Linked DNA regions of Homo sapiens: regions 2, 3 and 4 are each reported to be linked to region 1. Evidence: microRNA targets listed by miRTarBase, many of them from high-throughput screens and not tested one by one. Region 1 holds a microRNA gene; each other region holds the end of a gene's coding sequence.
The links. The annotated mature microRNA hsa-miR-376b-3p reads AUCAUAGAGGAAAAUCCAUGUU and lies in region 1 at 5,159-5,180, opposite strand. An mRNA with a match to its seed (bases 2 to 7 or 8) in the 3' UTR can be bound and repressed. Matches are read on the target gene's strand: a 7mer-m8 pairs with bases 2 to 8, a 7mer-A1 pairs with bases 2 to 7 and ends in A, and an 8mer does both.

Region 1 (7,932 bases):
TGTTCCTGAAAAGGAGATCCACCCCACGGGCCTTCCTGGGCACACGCAGAGCTCAGCTTCTCACTTTCTATAGGAATTCCCTGGGGTGGGACCACCATCTCCTTCCCAGTGTGGGCACCTCTCCAGGAAGTTTTCCTAAGGATGCACTCAGCACCGAGGTCCCAGGCACTGGATGAATTTACACCTTAGACAAAGCAAAGGCCCTGTGGTCACCATCCCTTCATCCATCTCACAGAGCCGTTGACACCAGTGTCATTCTCCATGCCAGCCCTTGCCCCACCCCTGCCAGAGGCTGGCATCGTGGCCATGAAGCCATGCTAAGAAAGAGCACAGGGTCAACAGTAGTAAACCCCACGTACCCCCAAGTAACTGAGGAAGCAGACCCACAGCCCATTCCCCACAGTGGTCTCTCCTTCAAGAAGGGGAGAGGAGCGGGAGCCGCCTGGTCCAGGTGGCAGGTTATGTGACTCATTACCCAGGCGTGGTGCTCACCTCTCTTCAGCTGGACGTTCGCTTTCCTTGGGCTGAGGATGCTGCGAATGTCCTTCCTGAAGCTGGCTTCGGGTCCAGATGACCCCCATGGCAGTCGGGGTGTAAAAAGCCGGCAGTCACACGGCCCAAGGAGTGTCTCCACAAACACAGAACAAGAGTCCCATTCTCAGGCAGCCATCCTAGGTGTGAGCAGAAAGCCAGCAGTCAGAGACGGGGCACAGACATCGAGGCAGAAGCAGGCGCCCTCTGACCTCCCACATGCACGCACCTGGTGCGGGGCTGACAGCTCCCACGGCTCATCCCCAGCGCTGCCTTCATGGGCAATCACAAATGACAAATAGAAGCAAACCATTCTTACAGATTCAGCCTGGGGACTGCGAGCTGGATCATGAACACCCAAGCATCAAAAAAAAAAAGCGCTGATGAGCACACCTCAGCCCCTTCCCCAAGGTCAATACCACCTCCAGGAAGCCCTCCTGGGGCTGGCCTACCAGGCTCGAAAACAGCATAGACAGAGCCAGTGCTCCGTGGTCCACCATCACTGCTGTCTGTGTTCCCCTTGAAATGATCCAACATCCAGGTCCCCCTTCTAAGGCTGATGCTGGGAACAGGAAGCCTTCTGTGTATGACTTGGTACCAAGAAGAGGCAGATCAATGTGTGATTTATCCTTAAAAAAGCAAACCACCATTAAACTTGGAGCACACAAAAAGGTCCCTCCTCTCCCACTGCTTCCAGGGAGTCCACAGGAAGAACCAGCATAGAGGGCGAAGGCAGAACCCAGGGGCAGCGTCACAGCCAACCTCACGTTCCCGGACATGGAAGCCAGGCCATACCTGAGAGGGGCTGACATCCGAGGCTTTGTCCTGGAGACAAGCAGGGTATGAGTGTCTTCTCCGACAGTTTGATACGCAAATGAGAGTCTCCCCCTGTATATTCGCCATTAATCAAGTGAACATACAAAGGGTATCCTCTCTTTAAGTACCAAAGGGTGGCTCAAAGAGCAGGTGAGGACCATGCCGGGTCTTTGCCGGAGTGGACATCTCCTCCTGCGAGGCCTGAGACCAAGGGGGAGGGGCCCGGTGACAAGCCTCATCTGGCTGACCCTGGAGCTGGGCCTGCACCTTGCACATTGTGGCCTGGCCCCGAAAGGTGGCACATCCAGGACTCCCTGCAGGCGAGACTGGCTTCTAAACAAGGGAACAGGTAGGCATGACTATCAGTGTGCTCAGCATGCATGGGTGAACCTGCTTCAAATACCCACAAGCTACATGGACAATGGAACCATCACCTTTCTCCAAAGGGGCACAGGGTGTGAGGGCTCAGCCCGGCAAGACATGGAGTTATCAGAGAAGAAGGCATCTGCAGGCATTCTCAGAGCTGGAGAGCGCTGAGACAATGTCTCTCCTCTGAGGCTGGTTGTCCTAGAGATGACCAGATCCAAGAATGTGTCACCTGTACCTACCTCGAAACAAACAAAAAGAGGGCCCCAGCGTCAGACTCTAGCGACAAAGGAGTCCTGAAGACCAGACACACCTGCCCAAGGCACACTCAGGTGCAATCACTGGACAATGTGCTCCGAGGACTGGCCATTGGAGTCCAGCGACAGTCCCAGAGGGCACAGGCAGGCTCAGGGAGCTCCACCAGTAACTTGCCTTAGAACAACCTGACATCCATGTGCTTCCCTCAAGGCTGACACTCTCTCAAGGATGGAGACCACCAGGGAGTGGCAGGTCAGGGGAGTAGCAGGTGAGAAGCAGCATCAGCTCTGCGCTCCACCATCCACCACCCATTCGTGTGTCCGGAGAGGTGCGAGGTTAGTGCTGGACGCAGGAAGCCCTCTGGGTATGACTTGGTATGGAGAAGAGGCAGATCCATGTGATTTATCCTTAAAAAAAGCAAACCACCATTAAACTCAGTGCACACAAAAAGGACCCTCCTCTCCCACTGCCTCCAGGGAGTCCACAGGAAGAACCAGCACAGAGAGCGAAGGCAGAACCCAAGGGCTAGGATCACAGCCAAGCTCACGTTCCCAGACAGGGAAGCCAAGCCGTACCTGAGAGGGGCTGACATCCGAGGCTTTGTCCTGGAGACAGCAGGGTCTGAGCGTCTTCCTCGACAGAGTTTGATACGCAAATAAGAGTCTCCCCCTGTATATTCGCCATTAATCAAGTGAACATACAAAGGGTATCCTCTCTTCAAGTACCAAAGAGTGGCTCAAAGAGCAGGTGAGGACTATGCCGGGTCTTCGCCGGAGTGGACATCTCCTCCTGCGAGGCCTGAGACCAAGGGGGAGGGGCCAGGTGACAAGCCTCATCTGGCTGGCCCTGGAGCTGGGGCCTGCCATACAGTTGACTTTACTTCCCAGCATCTCTTCACGACAGGATTGGTTACCAAAAGACAGGCAATCCTGTACCATTTGAAATAATGTAAATGTAAAATGGCTGAAATCCCTTTAGGGCCTGCAAAAACACCCTGGGAGAAGAACCTCTGCCTCTGCCCAAAGCCACTGCCTCCAGGAAGCCCTCCTGGTGAACACTGGCTAAGGGAGGTTAGAAGATGCAGTCACATGCATCATTAAAGAAAAAAGAGAAACAGAAATCCAACGCACTCCGTTTGCAAATCACAAAGCAGCACTATGACAAGTGTCCCTTCTCCTGAATTTGGCATTGTATTCAGAAAGCCATCTGAGCAGTTAGTTGTTACTCAGAAGTATTCATCTAGGGCAAGATTCGTCAAAGGAAAATGAGATTCTCATGGGCCAACTCTCTCTGAATAAACACATGCTAACACCAGGAATCCAAGGGTCTTTCCATTGGCAAGAATCCCTAAAGGACACCAATGGACTAAGAGAGCAGTGGGGCTTAGAGGTCCCAGCAGCAAGTCCTGTAGCCACACTGGGTGCTCTGGGGCCTCCTTCCTGTGGACTGGCCTTCCCTCAAGTGGACAGTGAGGTCCAAAAGTCACTCCAAGGATGGGCTAGGTATGGAGAGTGGGTAGACCAGATGACCCACATCTACATTAGACATTGACTTTGCTGACGGTCATTCTTTCATGTATCTGGGAGATGCACTGACCACGAGACCTCTTCTCAGAGGCTGGCATCATGCTGGGCAGACCTGCCGGAGTAGCAGCCCATGGATGCTTTGTGATAAGTAGGGCCCATCAAGGGAGGCCCTTTGTTCTTTTCTTTTTTTTTTAACCTATTGTGTTGAGACAGGGGTCTCTGTCAGCCAGGCTGAAGTGCAGTGGCACAATCTTGGCTCACTACAACCTCCCAACTCCCGGGCTCAAGTGATCCTCCAGCCTCAACCTCCTAAGTACTGGGACCACAGGCGCACACCATGACACCCAGCTAATTTTTGTATTTTTTGCAGAGATGGGGTTTCGCCAAGTTGCCCACGCTAGTTTCGAACTCCTGGGCTTAAGCCATCCACCGTCTCAGCCTCCCAAAGGGCTGGGGTTACAAGCGTGAGCCACCGTGCCCGGCCAAGGTAGGCCCTTTTTGCTAGGCAGAACAGGTGGTCTGAAGAGAAAACCCTATATCATCTCCAAAGCCAGCATCTCTTCCAGAAAGTTCTTGGAAGGAAGCATGAGATGAGGAGGGTCAGAGAACCAGGTCACAAACAGCAAGACAGAGGCACATGCCCTGTGGTCAACCATCCACACCCCAGGGCTATCCTGGCCATCTAACAGGTTGCTGGAGTCAGCCTTGTTCCCAAGAAGGCTTCCCAGGCAGGATTTGCTCCCCAGAGAGAGTCTGCCCTTGTATAATCATTGCAAGTAAAGCAAATGCGTGAAGGATTACCTCTCTTCAAGTAGCAAATGATGGCAGTGACAGGAAGGCCATTTCCTCTGTGACTAAGTTGCCACCAGCTCCAGGAGCAAGCCTTAGAGACACAGATGGGATCTGCATGGTGAGAGCAGCACACCGAGGTGTGAAGTGCAGGCCCGTGGGTGAATCACACATCTATTCCTTCCATAGCCCCTGAAGCAGTGCCCCTTCCTGAAATTGACAGCCCACTCAGGTATTCTCTAAGGTACAACTAGTCACAGTAAAAGAGGTTCATTCCAGAAAATGCATTGCAATCATGGTAAACATACAGAGAACAAACTTCATTCAAGGTCAATGAGGCAATACTGAGAACACAGCCTTGTAACAACACATTATGTGTGCACCAAGGGCAGTGAGCAAACAGCAGAGAAGCTGACGGCGTATTTCATACAAAGTACAATTCTGTGTCTGTCCGTCCTGTACCCAGGAGGGGTACAGATAACATCTCCTCTTCCATGGCGACTTCACGTCCTCCGAGGTTTTCAAAGCAGCATTTGATACTGAAAACGTGGATTTTCCTCTATGATTAATCATAAATAATGTACTCATAGAAGGAGAATCTACCTTTTAAATACCAAAGAAGGATTCCATCCAGGAAAGCGTGCACCTGTGCTTGAGTCATCAGAAAAGAAAGTCACATGAGGCAGACGAGCTTCCAGGGAAGAACTGGCACCACGAGACCCACAATTTAATCTTCACCAAGTTGGCGTCTCGAGATGGTTCTCGGGCATACCCCGTTCATTCAGATACGACGTGCGGCCTACCATCTTTGCACCTACTCAGGCCCTACGGTCTCTTCCAGAAACATTTCCAAAGCAGCATTTGATACTGAAAACATGGATTTTCCTCTATGATTAACCAGGAATCACGTAAACATAGAAGGAATATCCACGTTTTAAATACCAAAGAAGGACTGGGCTCTGGAAAGGACAAATCTGAACACAGTTCATGGAAAATGGAAGCAAGACAGTAAAGCAACCGTTTTCAGTCCCGTAGCATAGCTGTGACAACACACCACAGCCTGTGCACCAAGCTGGCTCCTCAGCGAAAGGGGGCTTCTAAAGGTGATGGTCAGCAGACATATGGCACGAACTCAGCACATGTTCTGCGGCCCACCATCTTTCCACTTACCCTGGAGGGCTCAGCCCCACCTCACGTCCCTGATGGTGGCTTCAGTCCAGCCATGATCCCAAGGCAGCATTTGATACTGAAAACGTGGATTTTCCTCTATGATTAACCATCAAACACGTAACCATAGAAGGAAAATCTACCTTTTAAATACCAAAGAAGGTTTCATCCCGGAAAGCACGAACCTAAGTACAATCCATCAAACACAAAAGTAACATAGCACAGAGGAGAGCATTCGGCCTCATGGAGAAAATGACGACGGAGCCCAGCCGCTTGGCCGAGCGGGCAGCTTGCGAGAGGGGTCTCCTCAAGGCGGGTGGGTGGTCCGCAGACATATGGCACGAATTCAGCACATGTTCTGAGGTCCACCGACTTTCCACTTACCCTGGAGTGGGGGGGGGGACTTTATTGTCTCTTCCCTGATGGTGGTTTCAGTCCAGGAATGTTTCCAAGCAGCATTTGATACTGAAAACGTGGAATTTCCTCTATGTTTAACCATAAATAACATAAACATAGAAGGAATATCCACCTTTTAAATACCAAAGAAGGATTGAGTCCTGGAAAGCATGAACCTAAGCACAATCTATCAAAATTAAAGACAGCACAGGATAGGTGCAGTCGGCAGGGGCCTCCCGGGCTAGCGGCAGTGACATGGGCCCTGCGGAGGACGCATGTCCCAGGACAGACCTTGCTAACAAGAGCTTAGGTTCTGGGATTCACCTTCCATCACTCTCCGCATGGGGGAGGGAGCTAACCTTCCTCTCAGAAATGTTCAGAAATGTTTTAAAAGCAGCCTTAGATACTGAAAATGCGGATTTTCCTCTATGATTCACCATAAATCCTGTAAGCATAGAAGGAACATCCACCTTTTAGATGGGAAAAGTGGGAACAGCCCTGGAGAGCACAAACGCAAACATGATTCATGAAAGACAGAAGGTAACAGAAGCAGGTGAGCACTTTGCGAGTCCCACGTGGGAAGCGCAGGGCCCACCCCTGGCCTCTTCACATCCAGAGATGGAACTCCTATGCAGGCAAACGTAAGTTTGGGGTCTGCCCTGCTGTCACTCGTCTGGGTGGGGGTAACCCTAATGTCTCTTCCCTAATGGAGGCTTCATGGTCAAGAGCGTTTCCAAAGTAGCATTTAATTCTGAAAAAAAAAAAAAAAAAAAGTGAATGTACATCAAAAATTTGCCACAAGTAAAGCAGGCAAAGTAGGGATTCTATGCTTTGAATTCGAAAAATATCAAAAACAAAAAGAAAATAAGCCTGTCAGGTTCCTAAAGTCACATCGCCTCCATGAAGCCCTCCCAAGGCACCTAATGACCAATGTCATGTAACTGTGGGCTGGAGCATCCTTCACATACCTTGGAGGGAGAAGGACACCCAAGAATCTTCCAGAGACTGAAGCTTGTGTCCAGAAAGTTTCAATCGGCAGGACTGGTCATGTTGGTGTGACAGACTGAGGAATAGGCAAACAGGTCAAAAACAATGTCTCTTTAAATACAACTGAGAGAGGTAGCAAAACATGATGCTCACCAGCCCCTACCACCACCACCCTCCACCACCACCACCACCACCACCACCAACACCACCAACACCACCACCACCAACACCACCACCACCACCACCACCAGTACCACCACCACCACCACCACCACCACCAACACCACCACCACCAACACCACCACCACCATCAGTACCACCACCACCACCACCACCACCAATACCACCAATACCACCACCACCACCACCATCACAACCACCACCACCAACACCACCACCACCAACACCACCACCACCAACACCACCAGTACCACCACCATCACAACCACCACCACCAACACCACCAACACCACCACCACCAACACCACCACCACCACCACCATCAGTACCACCACCACCACCACCACCACCACCACCACCACCACCACCACCATCAGTACCACCACCACCACCACCACCACCAATACCACCATCACCACCATCACCACCACCACCATCACCACCACCACCACCACCACCACCACCACCACTAATACCACCCTCCAAAAACAATGATCACAGCTTCCAGAAAAATCATTTTTGGGGTGGAGTGGATGCAGAGGCTTACTAAAATAGCGACAACACATGCCTCCCATAGCAAAAAATGAAGGACCAATAATCCCAGACTCAAACCCTATCTCGCAAGGGTGCCATCACTCCAGGAAGTGCCGCTAAAACGGCTTCAGTTCTGAGGACCAGGAGACATTTTCCACAAGCAAAGCGTATGCTCCATGTCCCACCCTCCATTCACATTCCACACACGGACAACCTACACCAATCTCACTTCTCTAAAGCTGGAACTGGTTCAAAAAAGTCTTGTACTTGAAAACCACTACTTCTCACACATGCAGAGTTAGACATTCCTCCTACTGGCGAATGGATCAGTGAGTGGACCAGATAACACCCATTGTCTGCTATTAGCCAGTCCCTCCCCTGC
Region 2 (7,932 bases), not on the chromosome of region 1:
ATAAATAGCAGGGTGTTATAAAAGTGGATTAGGAGCTAAAAATGGACAGTTGGATGTTGAACCTAAATTCCAGAGGGCTGGGCAGAGAGGAGCTAAACAAATGGTAACTGTGGAAGGGAGGAAAGGAAGGGGGTAAGCAGCATTGCCCAAAGGGAGACCTCAGAGGCCCTGACCACCTGAGAACCTACTCAATAGTGGAGACACCAAAAAAAAATATTCATGTGGCACAGACCTGTTTTAGCTAGTCTTCAATTTGGTGGGGTGTCCAAGCCCACTAGACTCCAGAGTCTAGTCCCGCCTCCTACCTCACCGTCAACTTACTTTTAGCTTATAAACCTTCGTATGTGCAAGGCGCGGTGGCTCGTGCTTGTAATCCCAGCACTTTGGGAGGCCCAGGAGGGCAGATCACGAGGTCAGGAGTTAAGCCTGGCCAACATGGTGAAACCCCGTCTCTACTAAAAATACAAAAATTAGCTGGGTGTGGTGGTCTGCGCCTGTCATCCCAGCTACTTGGGAGGCTGTGGCAAGAGAATCACTTGAACCTGGGAGGTGGAGGTTGCAATGAGCGGAGATCGTGCTGTTGCACTCCAGCCTGGGCAATAGAGTGAGACTGTCTCAAAAAAAGGAAATGACAAGAGATTAATTACTTAGTGAATCTAGGGCAATGGTGGTTTGTTGTACCAGACTTTGACATTTTCTTCAGTTTGAAAATTTCCAAATTAACAAGGTAAGGAAAATCCACTTGGAAAAGGCTCTTGCTGTTTATGGTCAACTCAATTCCCATTTGTGATACAAAAACAAGCCTGCATGTTCTCTTTTTTTCTCTGGAGATGCTTGTATTTTGAAGCTTAGAGATTTACAGGGTTCTGAGCTGAATACCGAGCTGATTTTCCGTGACAGTAAAATTTGCATTTACATGCATTCATTCACCCATGCATTTAATTGTGTCAGATGCCCGTACTCCCTAACAATGAGTTTCTAATTTCTCCACCTGTACATAATTTACCAAATATAAAGAACATCCCCCAAAAGAACAAATTCACCCAGTGTTCACCCAAACTGGCTGGAATCCCCTGGTCGGTGAAGCTGCTGGGGACAAAACAACCACGACTCCAGCAAGAGATTTTCTTCCTTCTGCAGAAAGTCTGCAAAGGCTGATGAAGAGGCTTGGGAAAGGGGAGACCGCGGACGAAAAGGCCCCACCGAAGCTCGCTGCCCGCACTCCCGACCCGCCTTTTACCTGGACCCAAGCCCCCAGCGGCGCAGGTGGGAGTCTGGGAAGAAGTGCGGTGTCGGCAGGAAGTCCCAGCGCGACGTCCGGGAAAGCCACAGGAGGAGGCGACCTGCAGGAGGCTACCCTTTGACCCCAACCCTACTCTCCAGTCCTCCTAGTCTGGTGGGAGCAACCTTAGACTGGTTGATGTGGAAGGAGGCGGGCCTGCACGCGGAGTACGGCATTCACTTCCGTTTCCGGGAGCGCACTTCCGTTTCCAGGCATGAGGGCAACGGGGGAGGGGGGGGAGGTGACCTGGAATGGGCTGAGAAACAGGAGCCACGAGAGCCGCGTGGTGACGTTAGAAGGGCGCTACAGCCGCGACTTTCCAAAGCTAGTAGAGAGATCCCAGCGTCCCCCGGGAAAGGCAGAAGGGGCGGGGCGATACCAAGACGGAGACAATGGGGCGGGGCGATGCCCTGGAGGCGGGATTGCCTGTGGGAGAGCCACCCTTCAGGCCATGCAGACCCCAGGTGAAATCTGCACAGGGGTCTCCTGGAGCCGTGGGAGGGGTTCCCCTTCTTCTCCTTCAAGAGCGTTTTTATGTTGCCCTCTTTATGGATGGAAAACAGAGGCATGGACGGGCGGTGTAACTTGGCCACATTCACTAACCTAATGAAGAAGTCTCTGAAACTGGATCCTGGGTCGCTGGAGGCCTTACACCCTCCTCCAGGGACTATGATAAATATCAGTCTACAAGCAAAGAAAAACTTTGGAATTTAAAGCCCTGTGTACTGTAGTTCTTCCTATATTTTTGACAACCAAACCAGAACCTTTATATCACACACATACACACACACAAACCCTTTTTGGCATTTTCTAAATATCCGTGTGAATAAAACACCTGCCAAGACGTGGTAGGATTTAAAAGTGATTTGGGGCGGGTGTTTTATTCACGTCTGCAATCCCAGCACTTTGGGAGACCCAGATGGGAGGATTGCTTGAGCCCAGGAGTTAGAGACCAGCCTGGGCAGACCCCTGTCTCCTAAAAACATAAAAAAGTGATAGGGAATAAATGTAGAATTGCCATAGGTCATAATTTGTTTAATATAAAGCTGCTACGCTTTTAGGTCTGACAAACTTCCTCTCCCTGTGCGGTTGTTTCCTGATATAACCCACGTGTTCCTCATCTCACAGCTGCTGACTCCTATAAAAGCTAATGACCAACACCACAGTCATGTAAATAAATTCCCCCCTTCATTTTTTTCCCTAGCCAATCGACAGTCACGTGAAGAAAGACTGAAGGACAAACCCATGGTCCTTAAAAGGCACAGTCCCACAGGCCCTCTCTGTCTCTTCATCTCTCCAGTAACCTACCCACAGGTTGAGCACCATACTGTCTCTGGACTTCCTGTGGGCCATTATTCAGCACCCCTAACTTCTCTGGAATCTATAATAAACTTTTTCCTTTCATTGATTTTGGTTTCACTTTCTCATTGTGTCTCACTTGACACACTTGAACTTAACATCCTCCACCAGCTCTCCTAGAGAGTGGCTATCTCGGGCCGGACATGTTGGCTCAGGCCTGTAATCCCAGCACTCTGGGAGGCCAAGGTGAGTGGATCACCTGAGGTCAGGAGTTCAAGACCAGTGTGGCCAACATGGTGAAACCCCGTCTCTACAAAAAATATAAAAATTAGCTGGGCATGGTGGGAGATGCCTGTAATCCCAGCTGCTCGGGAGGCTGAGGCATGAGAATCACTTGAACCCAGGAGGCAGAGGTTGCAGTGAGCTGAGATTGTGCCACTGCACTCCAGCCTGGATGACAGAGCAAGACTCTTAAAATAAAAAAATTAAAAAAAAGAGTGTGGCTATATTGGCTTTTGGCCTTTCTCAAGAGAGAAACCTCAAGACCGAGTTGGAAAATAAACATTAATACTAAAAAATGATACCAACGTATGATCCAGCAATTCCACTTCTGGGTATATTAATCAAAAAGTTGAAAGCAGGTACTGGAAGAGCTATTTGTACACCCATGTTCATGGCAGCTTTATTCACAATATTGAAAAGGTGAAAGCAAATCAAACTGTGGTATAGCCATACAATAGATTATCCAGCCTTAAAAAAGGAAATTCTGAGATGTGCAGAATTTGAACATGAACATGAACATGTTCCTTGAACATGTTCCTTGATCATGAACATGAACATGAACCTTGAACATGTTACGCTAAATGAAATAAACTAGTCACAAAAAGTCAAATACTGGGACTTCACTTTTATGAGGTACCTACAGTAGTGGGGTTAACACAGACACATGTTGGAACAACTAAGTTCCTCTTCAAAGACTCAACTTTCTGATCATAAGTTATAAAAGTTGTACATCAATCCTACCCCCTTTCTTCTCTTCTGTTTCCACAAATCGCACATTTACCCTATTTGGAAAAGTTTAAGTCTTAGCCAATCGGGATCAGCTTAGATTGTGCAGTCCAATCCCAGCCAATTGGGGGACGACACAGAAACAGGAACTGCATTAAATTAAAAACTCCTTCCCTTCTTTGTTCATCGTGCTCTTGCGATCGTAACGGGCACAAGCAGCACCCTTCTGCAGAAGTAAAGGTGCCCTGCGGAGAAATTTTCTAGGGGGTTTCTTTTGGCTATGTCGAGCACTTGTTTCCAACAGAGAATTGAATGGTGTTTGCCAGAGATTGGGAAGGGAGCAGTAGGGAGTTAGTGTTTACTGGGTTCAGTTTGGGAAGATAAACATTTTTTAGTGGGATGATGGTGACAGTTGCCCAACAATGTGAGTATACTTAATGCCAGCGAAGTGGACACTTAAAATGGTTAAAATGTAAACTTTATGTAATATACTTTACCACAATTCTTAAAAAGTGAATAGAGGATTATTAGTTTTATTTAATGAAGCCTCCAAAAACCAGAGATCTGGGGCAAAAGAAATTCAAAAGCAGTTTGGCTAGCAGTGCATTTTATACAGTCTCTGCTAAATAAAATACCCACTGATAAGTAAAGGGTTTGGAATTGTATTGCTAACATTAGATTTATACATTAGAAACGTGTGTTTAAAACAGACATTCTCTATCAACTGGCAAATAAAAGATTTTTAAAGGATTAGGTTTTAAAATAAGTATTAAATTAGATGCTGCACCAAAGAATATATTGGTTTAAAAAATTGCTCAGTGCCGGGTGCAGTGGCTCATGCTTGTAATCCCAGCACTTTGGGAGGCCAAGAGGGGCAGATCATCTGAGGTCAGGAGTTCAAGACCAGTCTGGCCAACATGGCAAAACCCCATCTCTACTAAAAATACAAAAATTAGCTGGGCGTGGTGGCACGTGCCTGTAATCCCAGCTACTGAGGCGTCTGAGGCAGGAGAATCACTTGAACACGGGAGGCAGAGGTTGCAGTGAGCCAAGATCTCTCCACTGCACTCCAGCCTGGGCAACAAGAGCAAAATTCCATCTCAAGAAAAAAAAAAAAAAAAAAAAAAAAAAAAGCTCAGCTGCTGTGTCAGAGAATTAAACAATGAGTTAAAAACCTAACACTAAACAGTATTTTTAAATGTCCTCATCCTGTCCTCACCCAGATTCCAAGCATCAAGGAGTCACGCTCTTGAGGAAAGGTGCGCCTTGTCCAGGAGCTCCAGAAGCCACCTGTGCAGAAATTTCACCAGTCTCCAAGTCCTGCAGAGCAGTCACATGGCACTCCAGACCCACCCTGCAATCCACTGCCCCAAAAGTCACCATGGGGTGAACACAGCTCAACATTGGTGGAAGGTGTGGGTGCCTTAACGCATTCATTAACCAATAACTGTGGGCTTTGCTCTAGAGACAGAACTAAAGCCCCCACCCTCTTCTACTCTGTTAGTGGAGCCTGCGGTTTTTATGGGCACAGGATGAGGGCGGGGCAGGCCATGAGTGGTTTTGAAAAAGGCAACATTTGAACTGGAAAAGAAGGATGTGAAGTTATCACTTTGGGCCAATCTGAAAAGTTACGTACTGCACAATTCCAACTCTATGACATTCTGAAAAAGGCGAAACTATGGAGACAGTAAAAAGATGAGTGGTTGTCGGGCTGGGGAGAGGGAGGGAGGAATAGTGGGAGGACCGATGATCTGTGGACTTTGGGTGATAATGAAGTGGCAATGCAGGTTCATGAATTCTAACAAATGTATTACTCTGGTGGAGTATGTTGATGATGGTGGAAGCTATGCATATGTAGTGGCCGCAGGAATATAGGATGTCTTTGAACCTTCCACACTATTTTGCTGTGAACCTAAAACTGCTCTGAAACATGGATTTTTTGTTTTGAGACAGCGTCTGACTCTGTCACCCAGGCTAGAGTGCAGTGGCACAATCTCAGCTCACTGCAACCTCCTTCTGGGCTAAAATGATTCTCCTGCCTCAGCCTCCTGGGTAGCAGGGACTATAGGCATAAGCCACCATGCCCAGCTAAGTTTTGTCTTTTTTGTAGAGGCGGGGTTTCACCAGGTTACCCAGGCTGGTCTTGAACTCCTGAGCTCAAGCAATCCACTCACCTCAGCCTCTCAAAGTGCTGAGATTACAGCTCTGAGCCACTGCACCAGGTGAACACGGATATTTTAAAAGAGTAATAAAACATTTTCAATTGGTCAGAGTTTTCCAATCTGAGAAGTCAACATTATTTAGCTGAACTACCACTCTCCAAAACCTCTTACACTAATAGGATTTCTCTCTACTGCAAAACCTTACTTAAGCAATCCCTGAGATAACAGCAAAGGGCTTTCCATGTTTCACAGACTGTGTGGTCTCATTGCAAGTTACTTCCTGCTGGGTTGTGAAGAGATTCTGACAGCTTTCCCATATTTCTTACATTCACATGGCTATGAACTGTGATACAGTAAGATATGAGAAGCAAATGAAGTACTTCCTGCATCCTTTTTATAATCACAGGGTTTTACCCCAGTGTGAATTCTCACAAAGATATTAAGGCTTGAGCAATGAAATAAGGTGACACCATATCCCTGGGATACACAGGTTCTTCCTCCAATGTGAGATTTCATGTTAACATTATGGCATGTGAGATATTTAAAGGTTGCCATACATTCCCCTACATTCCCAGGACATTTGCAGTCTAATTTTATTTTATTTTTTTTGAGACAGAGTCTTGCTTTGTCACCCAGGATGGAGTGTAGGGGTCTTGGCTCACTTGCAGTCTAATTTTAGATATGTAAAATGAGCCTCGTGGAATTAGTAAAAGCTTTCCCACGTGCCTTACAGCAGAAGTGTTCTCTACACTGTGAATTTTTATTTCTCATGTAAGGTATAAACATTTAATGAAATCTCTCCACATTACTAATAATGGAGCCTCAGTCCACTCTAAGTCACTAAATGTTGGGTGAAGTCACATTTATGACTTTCATAGTAAAAGAAACTTTCTCTTCTTGATGGTCTTTGATTTTCACAGGGCCTATCACCACAAGAGTTGGAAGTGAGTATTAAGATCTGATGAGCACTTACAGACTTCTTCACATGTCCTACATTCATAGAACGTCTCTCCTGTGATTGCTTTTGTGTTTACACTAACACTAATGATAGCTAATGAACGGAAAAAATAATCACAAAAAAATTTTATTATGTTTGAAGAAAGCTTAAAAATTTGTGTTGGTCTGCATTCAAAGCCATCCTGGCCTGCGGGTTGGACAAGCTTGATCTAAAGCTTTTCCCAAGTTCCTCACAGTATTAGTTTCCTAGGGTTGCTGTACAAAATAACAGACTGAATGATTTAACCAAGAGAAATTTATTGCCTCACAGTTCTGGAGCCTGGAAGTGCAATATCAAGGTGGAGACAGGGTTGGTTTCCTCTGGAGGCCATAATGAAAGCATCTGTTCCAGGTCTCTGTCCTTGGCTTGTAGATGGCCATCTTCTGGTGGATCCACACAGTCTTCTCCATGTGTATCCTTCCTTCAGTTTCCCTTATAGGGACACCAGTGATGTCAGATTAGGGATCGAACCCAACAACCTCATTTGAAGTTACTCACCTGTTTGAAAACCCTATGTCCAAATACAGTTATAGTGTAAGGAACTAGGACTTAGGGCTTACAAATATGGAGTGGGGCATCATCCAGACCATACCATTTAAATTGCAGGGTTTCTCTCCAATGTGAGTTCACATACACACATTAAGGTTTGTGGGATTCAGAAAGGTATTCCCAGATTCTCTACATTCATACAGTTTCTCTCCAGTGAGATTTCTGATGTGTTTGGTAAGGCTTGAGAATTCAGCAAAGTCATTTCCACATTCCCTGATGCAGGGTCTTCTCCACTGTGAATTCATATGTGTTCATTAAGACCTGAGATACAAAGTTGCTTCCACATTTTTACATTCATAGGGTTTCTCCCCAGTGAGTTTTCATGTCTTCAGAGAGAACAGGGACACCTTTAGGTTTTCCCACATTCCTTATGCTGACAGTCTCTCATCCGCATGCCTTCTTTCATGATTTCGAAAGGAACTGGAAGAACTGAAGGCTTTCCCGCACTCCTTACATTCATAGGGTTTCTCTCCAGTGTGAGTTCGTTCATGTAACTGAAACGAATTGGAGTAACTGAAGGATTTCCCACACTGTTTACATTTGTAGGGTTTTTCTCCAGTGTGGATCCGCATGTGAAGGTTAACACACGTGGGAAACTTAAAAGCTTTGCCACATTCCATACACGTGAATGGTTT
Region 3 (4,000 bases), not on the chromosome of region 1:
TTAGGCTTCAGATTTCCCTCAATAAAAGTTTTAGTTTTTATACATTCTGTCATGAATTGAATGAAGTAAATAATATGCTGTTGTAAGCAAATTATCTGCAGATAAATGTCTTATGAATCGTATATCTTACTGTTTATTAAATTCTGAAGTATTGAGCAGTTTCCAATGTGAAATCCCAGCTGGCTTCTTTGCAATGATGGACAAGTTAGTTATAATTCATATGGAAATTCAAGGAACCCAGAATAGCCAAAACAATCCCGAAGAGCAAAGTTGGAGGACTCACATGCCCCAATTTCAAAACTTACTACAAAGCTACAATAATGAAGAAAGTGAGGTAATAGAATTTGGAGTCCAGAAATAAACCCTCTCACATTTATGGTCAATTGTTTTTTGACAAGGGTGCCAAGATCATTCAATGGGGGAAAGAATAGTCTTTTCAGCAAATAGTGGTGGGACAACTGGATATCCACATGCAAAAGAATGACGTTGGACTCCTATTTCACACCATATACAAAAATTAACTCAAAATGGAACAAAGATCTAACTGTAAGAGGTAGAACTATAAAACTCATAGAAGAAAACATAGGGGTAAATCTTCATGACCTTGGATTTGGCAGTGGTTTCTCAGATATGACACCAAAGGCACAAGCAAAGAGAAAAATAAATTGGACTTCATCAAATATTTAAAATTTTGTGCTTAAGAGGACTCTATCGAGAGGGTTAAAAAGATCCACAGAATGGGAGAAAATATTTGCAAATCATATCCAATAAGGGAATTAGAATATACAAAGAATTCTTAAACTCAGTAAGTTGTAAGCCGATTTAAAATGGGCAGAGGATCTGAAAAACCTTTATCCAAAGATGTACAAATGGCCAGTAAACACATGAAAAGATGCTCAACATCATTAGTCACTAGGGAAATGCAAATCAAAACCACAGTTGAGATGCAACTTCACACATTATGGGTATAGTCAAAGATGGACAGTAACAAGTGTTGCTGAGGATGTGGAGAAAGTGGAAGCCTCCTACATTGCTGGTGGAAATGTAAAATGATGCAGCCACTTGGGATAATAGTTCCTCCAAAGATTAAACAAGAGTGACTGTGTGTCCCAGCAGTTTTACTCCTAAGTATATACCCAAGATAAATGAAAACACACATCCGCACAAAAACTTATACACAAATGTTCATAGCAGCATTATTCATAATAGCTAAAGAGTGGAAACCCAAATATCCATCAATGGATGAATGGATAAATAACAATGTGCTCTTGACATGATACTGAACAATGATGTTCAGCAATAAAAAGGAGTGACAAGTGACATAGTGATACACATGTTATAACGTGGATGAACTTTAAAACACTATGCTAAGTGAAAGAAGCCAGTCACGAAATACCACATACTATATGATTTCATTTATGTAGAACGTCCAGAAGGCCAATCTACAGAGACAGTCGATTCGTGGTTGCAGAGGGCTTGGGGTGGCCGATGGGTTGGGGAGTGTTGGCTGATGGGTGCAGGATTTCTCTTTGGGGTGATAAACTTTCTAAAATTGATCTAGTGATAATGGTTGCACAACTCTGAATATACCAAAAGTCATCAAATTGTACACTTTAAATGGATACAAATTGTATGTGAACTTAATCTCAATAAAGCCGTGACAAAAGTTTCCAACATGAACTCTTATTTGGAAAGCCTTTCTCCCTGCCTCACTGTTTCCTCCTCTCCTTTTTCCCTGAACTGCACTCTCTCGACTCCTGTGTTTGATGTGCCTTAACTCTTAGGATACTGCCATTTTGTCTGACAGTCCATGTCGTGACCAAAGTTAATTCACCTTTCCAAATAAGGGTCTCTGTTCAGGCATTTCTATCCAAAATAGATTTGTCCTGTGTCCTAAGGCCAGGGATAAGTCCCCCCACCCCCCCCCCCCACCCCCAACACCCTGTGTGATGTGTTTATATTTGAGAGAAGATTGGGCGGGGAAAAGCATTTTCCGAAGTTCAAGCATACAGCATAGGGACTAGAAAGATGCTGGGTTGGATATAAAATAATTGAGCCCCCAAAGCATCAAGAAGGATGTTTGGGGCTTTTAGAAGGCTGCCTGTTCACAGAAAAGGTGAATGTGTTGTCCAGCACTGTATTAGCGCGAGTCTAGTCACTTGCCTTGGCATTTGAAAATGAAAAGTAACTCGGAAATGAGCTGCTAGCAAAGACTACCCTGTGTCTGGGGCCAGAACAGTCTTTAGAGCAGCCTCGTCCTCTGATTCCACCACCTGCTCTCCATATCCCTCTCCTGCCCCTCCCCCGTGTTAACAGCCTCTCCCAGGAAGGGGCCTGGAAACTCAGGCTGCGCTCTAAGTGGCCAATGAGGCCTCCCAATCTAAGGCGCCGCCTCCAGGAACGGAAAGCCAGGCCCATTCCTTCCCAGAGAGCTTTTCAGGAGCAGGCGCAGTTTGCGTATTGCAAGGCAGAGGGTGGAGGGTGAGAAGCTTTCAGGGAAAAAGCTACATGGTCCTTTTTATGATGTGAGTCCTTCCCACTTCCTGCGAAGCATGTAGCCAGCTAATGAGCCTCCTCTGAGTAGCCAGTGGTAGCTCCTGGGCCAGCTGTTCTCGAACTATGTTTGGTTTGCTAGGAAATGGTAGCCCTAGGTAAAGGGCAATTGTACTGTGTTGTGGTCATTTGGGGTCCCTACATATACTGAGATGTGCAGCCTGTCCTGTATGATCACCTAAATGGTGACCACAGACACGGGGAATTTGCTGGAATGGATTGCATAATGGAGCTGTGTGTATTGGGCGCTCTGGTCCCTCCCCAATCCCTGTGTTCATGAGGGTGGAAGCCCAGATCCGCCTTGAAGGTAAGAACTGTGAGCAGAGGAAACTCCCCTACCTTGGGCTTTTGGTCATTTGTCACGTATAGCCTCTCAGGGCACCGGGATTCTCACCCACCGCACTCATCCCTGCCACCCAGTCACCCTTGAGACCCTCAGCTGCCTCCCCAGGGCTCTGAAGTCCTCTTTGGCGATGATTTAGTGGAAACTTAACTAGGAGGAGCTGCTCCCTTCTGCATTCAAAGCCAGGCTTTAGGAAACTGTATGTTTCTGTCTTGAATGTGGTAAAGCAAATGAATTTTCAAATTATCAGGGCTGCTTTGTGTTCCCCTGAGACTGCACCTTTCACAGTATCACTGAGACAAAAAATGAGCAGAAAATTACCCCTGCTACTTAGGCTTTTGTAAGAAAATTCGTTTCGGGGACATTTTCTTTGTTCTGACTTTCTCTGGCCCTGAGTGGGGAATAAGTTCATTTTTATTTCATTGAAATCAGAAAGCTATATCTTAAAAAAAAAAAAATTATCTACCCAGCACTGCAGTTACAATTGCTTTGCGAAATATAGCCCTGTCCATCTCGGTGGTGTGTGAGGGGGTCCCCTACGGCCCGCTCTGTGCCAGTCACCCCCTGGCAGGCGCCGAGCTGAGGCAGGCATCAGGCACACTTGCTGACGCACTCCAGCAGCTCCATCCGGATGGCAATGCGGACGTGCCAGCCCAGCGGGATGAGGCGGATGAAGCGGGAGATGATGGGGGGCCGCAGCAGGTTCTGAACCGTGGAGGTGCGGTCCGAGTTGCCATAGAAGACCTAGAGAGATAGAGGAAATCCTGTCACCATCACATCGGGGAGGGAAAAGGAAGAAGGGTTCCTTTCTGGAGCTAGCCCCAACTTTTAACTATAGAAATGATTAGGAAGTAGTTAAAGCAGTTTGCGGGTGCCCCCCAAAATCTGACCTTGAGTGATTGTCATCACACCTACATGCTTGGGACATCTGGAACTGCACCATCCAATAGGGTGGCCACTAGCCAATATGTCTGTTTACACTTCAATTAATTAAAATTAGATAAAAATTCAGTTCCTCAGTCACATGAGCCACATTTCAAGTGGCCGCCATATTGGACAGTGCAGATGTGAACATTTCCATCACAGAAAGTTCTATTGGAGGGT
Region 4 (7,932 bases), not on the chromosome of region 1:
CAGGTACTCTTGTATACATTTGTCTGATATTTCAACTATTATAGAATGTCAAAGTTGTAAGGAACAATAGACATCATTTTATCCAGGTCTTGTTTTATCAGTGGAGAACCTGGGAAGTTTGGCACCTCGTAAATGATCACACAGTGAGATAGATAATAGCAGCGTTGGCAATAGAATCTGGGTATTTAGACTCCTGGGTCCAGAGTTCTTTTTATTCTCTATATTTTGTAGAATGCCTTTTTTGTTAATAATCTGCATATCCACAAATAATGAAAAATAAACCTCTTTCTAGCAACTATTTTCTTCTAAGTGTATGTTTGAAGATCCCTAGCATAGGTACTGTGACATTTTAGTAACACAGTAGTGAATATGGCTGTGTGAAAAGGACTCCATATGATTGTGTTTTGTTACAGACATATAGCCATGAAGTCTACTTTGACAGAGACTTGGTGCTACACATAGAGCAGAAACCCAACAGAGTCTTCAGCTGCTATGTTTACCAGATGATATGTGACACTGGGGAAGAAGAAGAAACCATAAACAGAAGCTGTTAAAAAGAGTGAGATAATTGTAACCTAAGAGACTTTTAGCCAAACACCCCAGCAGCTGCGTCCAATCCATTTTATTATCTGCATGGCACATTCTCCAGTATTTTCCAAAAAAGTCTTGTGTTGACTTCAGATGACTATGACTTCTTTTTTAAACTCTTGCTGTAAAAGATGGTGAGGACTTCATTTTTTTTAAAGGTTTTTTAGAATACTGTTCCAAGAAGTTTAGTGTTTTGCAGCTTTGAGCTAGGTGGTAATGCAAATATAAAATGCTGGGAACAGAAAAGGACAGGTTAATTCCAATTGTTGAGGAGTTAAGTCATTGATGGGGTGGGTCATTGATGAGTTCTTAAAGGATGGTATGGAATTTTGTTTGTTAAGGCTAGGAAAGACAGGGAGAGACAAAAGTAAACATGCAGAAAGAAATCTTATATCCTCTATACCAAACTTTGCTTAAGGATGAGAAATGAGATGTGTTATGTGAGAACATTATTTTGAGCCCAAAATGTGTCATCACAGTTTTTAAAAATCTTATATATGTATTTATATGTGTTTCGTATTTGTATATAGTATCAGGAATTGGTTCTAGTTCCCAAATTATCTTTTCTTCCTTGGTTTTGTTCTCTTGGCTTGATGTTCACATTGAATATTTGTGTTTCTATATAGGCTAATGTAAAAGATTCCAAGCAAACCTTAAGTGAAATTGTTTTCTGATTTGCATCCTGTTTAGCTCTTAATGTATCTAAGGATGTTCTCATCTCACCATTCTACTCATTTAGTGAGTTTTCTGATCTTGTTTAGGCAATATTTGCATACTTATGCAATAAGATAAAGGTACCCTTGCCTGCAGTAGTTCTGTTTCCTGTAGAAAAGTGGATAAAGAGTCCCAGAAGAAGTTCTTACTAGCTTGGGAGTTACCTGATTAACCAGAGAAAATTTTTGGCTTACTTATGGAACAAGCATTATTTCTTCTTTGTTAGGAAAGATCTAAATATGGTCCTTGACTTTTAATAATCATTCTTTAGAATGTTAAATAAAGGCAACCCAAGTAAAGGGAGAAAATGTTTCTTTGTGCTTCCTGTTTGAGAAATTCAGTTGCTTCCATTTCGCATGTTCTGCACATTTATCCGATGTAACCTCAAAAGAATAACTGGTAATAAGGGAAGGAAACAGCAGCAACAATCATTGCTGATTCAAGTTTAAGGTTAAAATATGGAATTTTTAGCTTGGATGATTTATATTAAAATCTTTCCATTTTTTTTTTCAGTTTTGGCTTGATGCCATGTTAAGAATGATGTGAATTCTTCCCAGTTCTGCCCTGGTGCTAGACATTGCCCCATACTTTCAATTAGACACTAGCTGTATCTAAATAGTCCCACTCAGTAAACTTACATCTTGAAAAACAAGACCAGTAAGAGGCCAGTGAAAGTACTAAAGAAAGAAACCAATGTTGTGTGAGTTTCAAAGCAGCTGCAATGCTGTGTAAAAGTAGAGTGTTCATTCTCCATTTCCAAGAGTGTTTCAGAATAGGATGTCTTAAGACTTCAGTCATGTCAGAGATTTTTTTTTTTAGGTGATTATTGAGTTTCTCCTTCTCCTTTAAGTCATCACCTTCCTTTTATGAAATGATAGTAAGGAACTCGTCTATTCTGAAAGGCATTTGAGAAATAGCTGAATTCCTGGCTGCTTTTTTGCTGGGGGTAGATGGTGGAATACTTCTGGTCTAGATATAACTTACCACTAAGAAACCCCCAGTATGTCACCACTGCCTAAATCTAACTAGACCAGGGTCCAAATGCCATCCAGGCCAGGCAGGAAATATACCTCATGTGAAAGACAGTAAGGAGTTGTGGGCAGTGTAACAAACAGGAGAGCTATGCCCCAACTAAAAGGAGCAGCTGCTACTGCTTAGTTTCAGCCAGTTGCAACAGTATGTGGGAATGTAGGCTGCATGGTTGTTAACAAGATAGATGGTAAAAAGATGCCAGAAGATACAGAAGATAGCAAAGAATGTGGGGAATTTGGATACCACACATAGCGAGAGACAATGAAGCATGCTTCCCAGCTCGCCAGAGTGTCACACAGCTGCTCATTCTGCCACCTGCCAGACATTAATGTCTTCCTGCCCTACCTAAACCCCCTCTTTACCTGATATTTTAATTCGAGACTCTAGCTACATGCCCACCTACTTAACAGGTACTAGTGACAGGTACAAAACATTATGGGTAACAATTCTGAGTGTTTAATGCAAGCCCAGGTGAAGCAGGGTAGCTTCCATCAGCAGGTACAGACGTTACGCTGAAAAGAGGTGCATTCTGCATTGCACTCCTGGATCTAAGTTTCTGCATTCTCAGAGCATCAATGCAGCAAGCTTATTGTTCCTCAATTTTTTACAATATTTATCACAACTCTGGGAGAAAACAAAACAAATCCTATCCTATTTACTATTTGTGCTACCTAGTGAGGAGATACCGCTCTGTTTAGACAAATTAAGGCACTTCACATTCTTCCACCAATTGAAAGTTTTGTATCTTACAGTTCTTTTTTTAAATAATATATTTATTGAGCACTTTCTATCTACTAGTCACTGTGATACAGTATAAGTAAAGTGGGTTGTCTCATTTAATATTCAGAATAACCACATGAAGTATGAACTGCCATTATCTTTCCCCTTTGTACAAATGAGGAAAGTGAGGCTCACAGAAGTTAATTGGCCCAGGGTCCCACAACTAGTCAGTGCAGAGGTGGGAAACATAACCAGATTTGTTCGGCATGAACTTGTGCCAAATTTCCTCCAAAGTTCTCAAAAGGCAAGGCATGTTATTTTATCCCAATTTAGCATACCAACAACTATAATACTAGATATGTAGGAAAGTGCTTAATAATCGTTTTTTACTGATGATTCAGTGTCTAAATTTTGAACAAATTTGGGTAAGATACAAGTCACACATAAATTGACAGAAAATGTAGTTCTTCATTCAATGGTTAGCAGTCATTAAAAGGTACTTTCCCTTTGTTTGTGGTGATAATCAGTATTAGTAGTTTTCATATTATTTGGCTTCCATATTAATCATTTTTATATTTTCTTCTCCTTCTTACCATGTTTACTTATATCATCCATCTTTTAGAATCCCAGGGAGCTAATTTCTGGTCCCTGTGTTGCTATCAAATCTGTATCTTGCAGAAAGAATAATTTATTTCAAACAAGGGACATACAATAGAAAGATAAGACCTACTGAGGTCTTTTTCCCATCATTTTATTATGAAAAATGTTCAAACATACAGTAAAATTGAAAGAATTTTATAGTAAATACTGACCACGGGGATTCTACATCTTACTCTACTTGTTTTATTATTTTCCTATCCAGCGTACTTTTTGATGGATTTCAAAATAAATTGCAGTTGCTGATATACTTCCCCCTAGTACTTCAACTGCAGATTATTAACTAGAGTTTAGTATTTATTTAGTTTTTAAATTTTTTTGATTTAAGATTTACCTGCAATAAAATGTACAAATCTTAAGTATAAATTTACTGAGTTCTTGCAGACATATACACCTGTGTAACCCAAACCCTTTCCAAAATTTAGACCATTGCAATCATCTTCAGAAAGTTTCCTAAATCCCTCTCCCAGTCTATCCCCTCCCCACCCCTCAGGTATAACTACTGTTCTCATTCTTTTATATCAAAGGTTAAATTTACCTGTTCTAAACTTCATATGAGTGAAATTATACAAAATGTAATGCTTCTTTCACTTAGCATAATGTTTTTGAGATTTATTCATGTTGTTGCATGTGTCAGTGATTCATTTCTTTTTATTGCTGAGTATTCTTTCGTATGAATATATCACAGTTTGTTTTTTTATCTTTCTGTTGATGGACACTGGGCTCTTTCTGCTTGTTTTTTACTGTTATGAATAAAGCTGCTATGAACATTCTTAGACAATTCTTTTGTGAACATGTGTCTTTATTTCTCTTGGGTAAATACCTGGGGATGGAATTTTCGGGTCCTTGGGTAGGTGTATATTTAGTTTAATAAGAAACTGCCAGACCTTTTCCCCAAAGGATTGTACGATTTTACATGCTTGCAGCAATGTAGGAGACTTCCACTTGCTCCACACATTCTCCAGCATGTGTGGTTGTTAGTCTTCTTTATCTTAGTATTTATGCTGGGTGTGTAATCATTTCTAGTTGATACTCAGATTGTTTCTACTTGTGGTTAGCAACCCTCTTGTCAACTTGACCTCCTTCCTTCCCCAGGAACTGCTGAAAACATCCTTTGTGATAATAGTTAAGATACCCCAAAACTCAGCTTGAATTATTCTTTCTCAAACATGGGATACATTGCTCATCAAAGAACCCTGATTCCTTTAATGGAGATCATAGTTGGGAACAACCTGGGTTCTAAGGGCACGTGTTCCACCGTTTCACATGACTACTGGAGCTGGACAAAATGGCACTGGAGAAGAGGTCACAACAATCATTATAATAAAAGCAGAAAGGTGACTTTTTTCTTCAAAAGTTGAGTTCGTGTTATCATGTACATGATAACAGGTGAAATCAGGTGAATTTTTTTTCTCTAATATGAGAGCATATTAAACAAGCTGTATCCTTTTCTCACTAACTGTAGTATTCTAGGCCGGATATGTTGTGATAGCAAATTAGTATATTCAAATTTTAGAGGTGCACAAAATTTCAGAAGTATTTATTTATTTATACTCTTTTTGACTCTCAATTCAAGTGTCTTAGAATTTGTGCCAAAGTTTGCAGGTTCAGTTCCTTTCCTCATTATAACCTGAGTCCTATAGAAGGGTGAAGGTGGAAAGGAGGGGGACACTCAGCCTCCTATATAGGCACATTAAAAAACACCATGCTGTGAACACTAAGCTCTCAGATAGAACCCACTGAGATTAACAGACAATAGCAAGGAAAGGGAGGATTGAGATCAGCAATAGCCTGTAATATTTGTCTGATACTCTCCTTTAATTCTTTGTTTTCATGAATACAAGTGTTATTCCTGATTAGAGACAACATTGAATTTTAGTTTCATAAAGAATTTTGGCTACACTTTTTTTCTCAGAAAAACCAACTTTGCAAAGGTGGTAAATCCAATAAAAAGATGTCAGCAAATAAAATCAAATTATTAGAATTATCAGAGATCTTTAAATTTTCTTTATAGACTTATTAAAGTATAATTGACGTGCAGTAAACACTTTTTTTTGAGACAGAATCTCGCTCTGTCACCCAGGCTGGAGTGCAGCAGCACGATCTCAGCTCACTGCAACCTCTGCCTCTCGGGTTCAAGTGATCCTCCCACTTCAGCCTCCAGAGTAGCTGGGAGTATAGGCACCACCACACCCAGCTTATTTTTGTATTTTTAGGAGAGATGTGGTTTCACCATGTTGGCAAGGCTGGTCTCGAACTCCTGACCTCAACTGATCTGCCTGCCTGGGCCTTCCAAAGTAAACTGCATGTATTTAAAGTACACAATTTGATAAGTTTTGCCATGAAACTATCACCACAATCAAGATAAAGGACATACCCATTACCCAAAAAGTTTTTTTTCCTGCACCTTTGTGATCCCTCCCTTCTGCCCCTCTGTCCCCACTTCCCAAGACAACCTCGGATCTGTTTCTGTAACTTCAGGTTAGTTTGTGTTTTCTAGAATTGTATATAAATGAAATAGTAAGTATTTTTATTTGCTGGCTGCTTTCATTCAGTACAGTTATTTGGAGATTCATCTGTATTGCATGTATCAATAGATCATTCCTTTTTATTGTGGAGTAATCTCCATTGTATGGATATGTCTACAGTTTGTTTATACTGTGGCCTTTCGATGGACATTTCAGTTGTTTCCAGTTTGGGCTACTACAAATGAAGCTACGAGGTATAATTGTATGGACATACGCTTTATGTTGGGTAAATACTGAGGAGGGAATGGCTGGCTCCTATGTTAGGTGTATGCTTAACTTTTTAAGAAGTTTCCAAACTGGTTTTCCAAAATGGCTGTACCACTTCATATTCCCATTATCAGTATATGAGAGTTCTAGTTGCTTCATATCTTTGCCAGCACTTGATATGGCCAATCTTTTTAATTGTGTATGGGTGTGTATATATATATATTACATATATGAAATTGTTTTTATGATCTCAGGACCCTGGATTTTTTTTTTAATTTTAGACATTCTAATAGGTAGTAGCATCTCAATGTGGTTTAAATTTACATTTCCCTTTTGACCAATAATGATAAGCACATTTTCATGTTTATTTGTTGTGTGTATATCTTTTTGATGACATAGTGAAATCTTCTGTACTTATTTTTCTTTATTTATTTTGAGACGGAGTCTCGTTTTGTCACCCAGGCTGGAGTGCGGTGGCTCAATCTCAGCTCATTCCAGCCTCCGCCTCCCGGATTCAAGAGATTCTCGTGCCTCAGCCTCCCAAGTAGCTGGGACAACAGGTGTGCACCATCATGCCCAGCTAATTTTGTATTTCTAGTAGAGATGGGGTTTCACCATGTTGGCCAAGCTGGTCTCAAACTCCTGACCTCAAGTGATCCACTCACCTTGGCCTCCCAAAGTGCTGGGATTACAGGTGCCTAGCCAAAATCTTCTGCACTTAAAATAGAAAGAGAGAGAGAGACTTACTATGTTATGTTGCCCAGGCTGTTCTCAGACTCCTGGGCTCAAGCAATTCTCCCACCTCAGTCTCCCGAAGTGCTGAGATTACAGGTGTGAGCCACTGCACCCGGCCAAAGACACAAATACTAACAGACTCAAATTATTTTCTTCCCAGGACTTACAACCTTGGAGAAGCTCTGGGCATGTTGCCAGCCTCTCCCAGTCTTATCTCAGTTCAGAAGGATCATATACTGAATAAAATTATATCAGAAATACTTCATATCTAAAGTAGTATATCTAAATTATGTCTAAAGTTAGTTAATACCTGCTCTGACCTAGTTAATGCCTTGAACCTATTTTAGTTCAATGTACTTTGAAACCTTGGATCACCACGGAAGTGATGAAACTTCTAGTTAACAAAATTCATAAAAGTAACAGTCGGTGAAAGTGAAATTCATACTCAGGACACTCTACCTGCCAAGATAATATGCATCTATAAATTGACCTCTTAAATGAAATTTTCAAAAGAAAATTACCAATAATTTAGCAATTTTTTTTGCCATATAGCATTTACCAGCAAATGCTCTGTAACAAATGTTTTATGGCTCAATTAAGTATTTTTTATTTTCTCTTAAAAGGGTATGTTCTCAAGTAGACAACCGTTTTTGAATCCTATTCTAAACACCACTTGTGTTTTTGAAAAGCACAAGCTCCAAAGGCACAGCTTTTCAAGTTTTACCTGTTAGAGCAACAAGACTAGTTAAAG

Region 2: the mRNA of ZNF266 is a reported target of hsa-miR-376b-3p. Seed matches in the 3' UTR shown: 7mer-A1 at 7,591-7,597.
Region 3: the mRNA of RS1 is a reported target of hsa-miR-376b-3p. Seed matches in the 3' UTR shown: 7mer-A1 at 1,185-1,191.
Region 4: miRTarBase lists DCAF17 as a target of hsa-miR-376b-3p. Seed matches in the 3' UTR shown: 7mer-A1 at 4,473-4,479.

Annotation. Positions count from the first base shown.
Region 1 is chr14:101,037,745-101,045,676 of GRCh38, reverse strand. It overlaps MIR376B (microRNA 376b), which reads right to left and starts at 5,241; the gene lies at 5,142-5,241. It overlaps MIR376C (microRNA 376c), which reads right to left and starts at 5,987; the gene lies at 5,922-5,987. It overlaps MIR376A2 (microRNA 376a-2), which reads right to left and starts at 5,608; the gene lies at 5,529-5,608. MIR654 (microRNA 654) reads right to left here and starts at 5,458; the gene lies at 5,378-5,458. It also overlaps MIR376A1, MIR300, MIR1185-1, MIR1185-2 and MIR381HG.
Region 2 is chr19:9,405,610-9,413,541 of GRCh38, forward strand. It overlaps ZNF266 (zinc finger protein 266), which reads right to left. Exons shown (of 11, transcript NM_001370374.1): 11 at 6,820-7,932. The coding sequence ends at 7,666. It overlaps LOC112268250 (a long non-coding RNA gene), which reads right to left and starts at 1,451. Exons shown (of 3, transcript XR_002958434.2): 1 at 1,241-1,451.
Region 3 is chrX:18,638,517-18,642,516 of GRCh38, forward strand. RS1 (retinoschisin 1) reads right to left here. Exons shown (of 6, transcript NM_000330.4): 6 at 1,172-3,640. The coding sequence ends at 3,488. It overlaps CDKL5 (cyclin dependent kinase like 5), which reads left to right. Exons shown (of 18, transcript NM_001323289.2): 18 at 1-1,680. Among named protein-coding and RNA genes, the nearest start is that of RS1, 32 kb to the right of the region's middle. RefSeq lists a silencer at 2,148-2,317.
Region 4 is chr2:171,480,561-171,488,492 of GRCh38, forward strand. DCAF17 (DDB1 and CUL4 associated factor 17) reads left to right here. Exons shown (of 14, transcript NM_025000.4): 14 at 414-4,492. The coding sequence ends at 554. Among named protein-coding and RNA genes, the nearest start is that of CYBRD1, 38 kb to the right of the region's middle.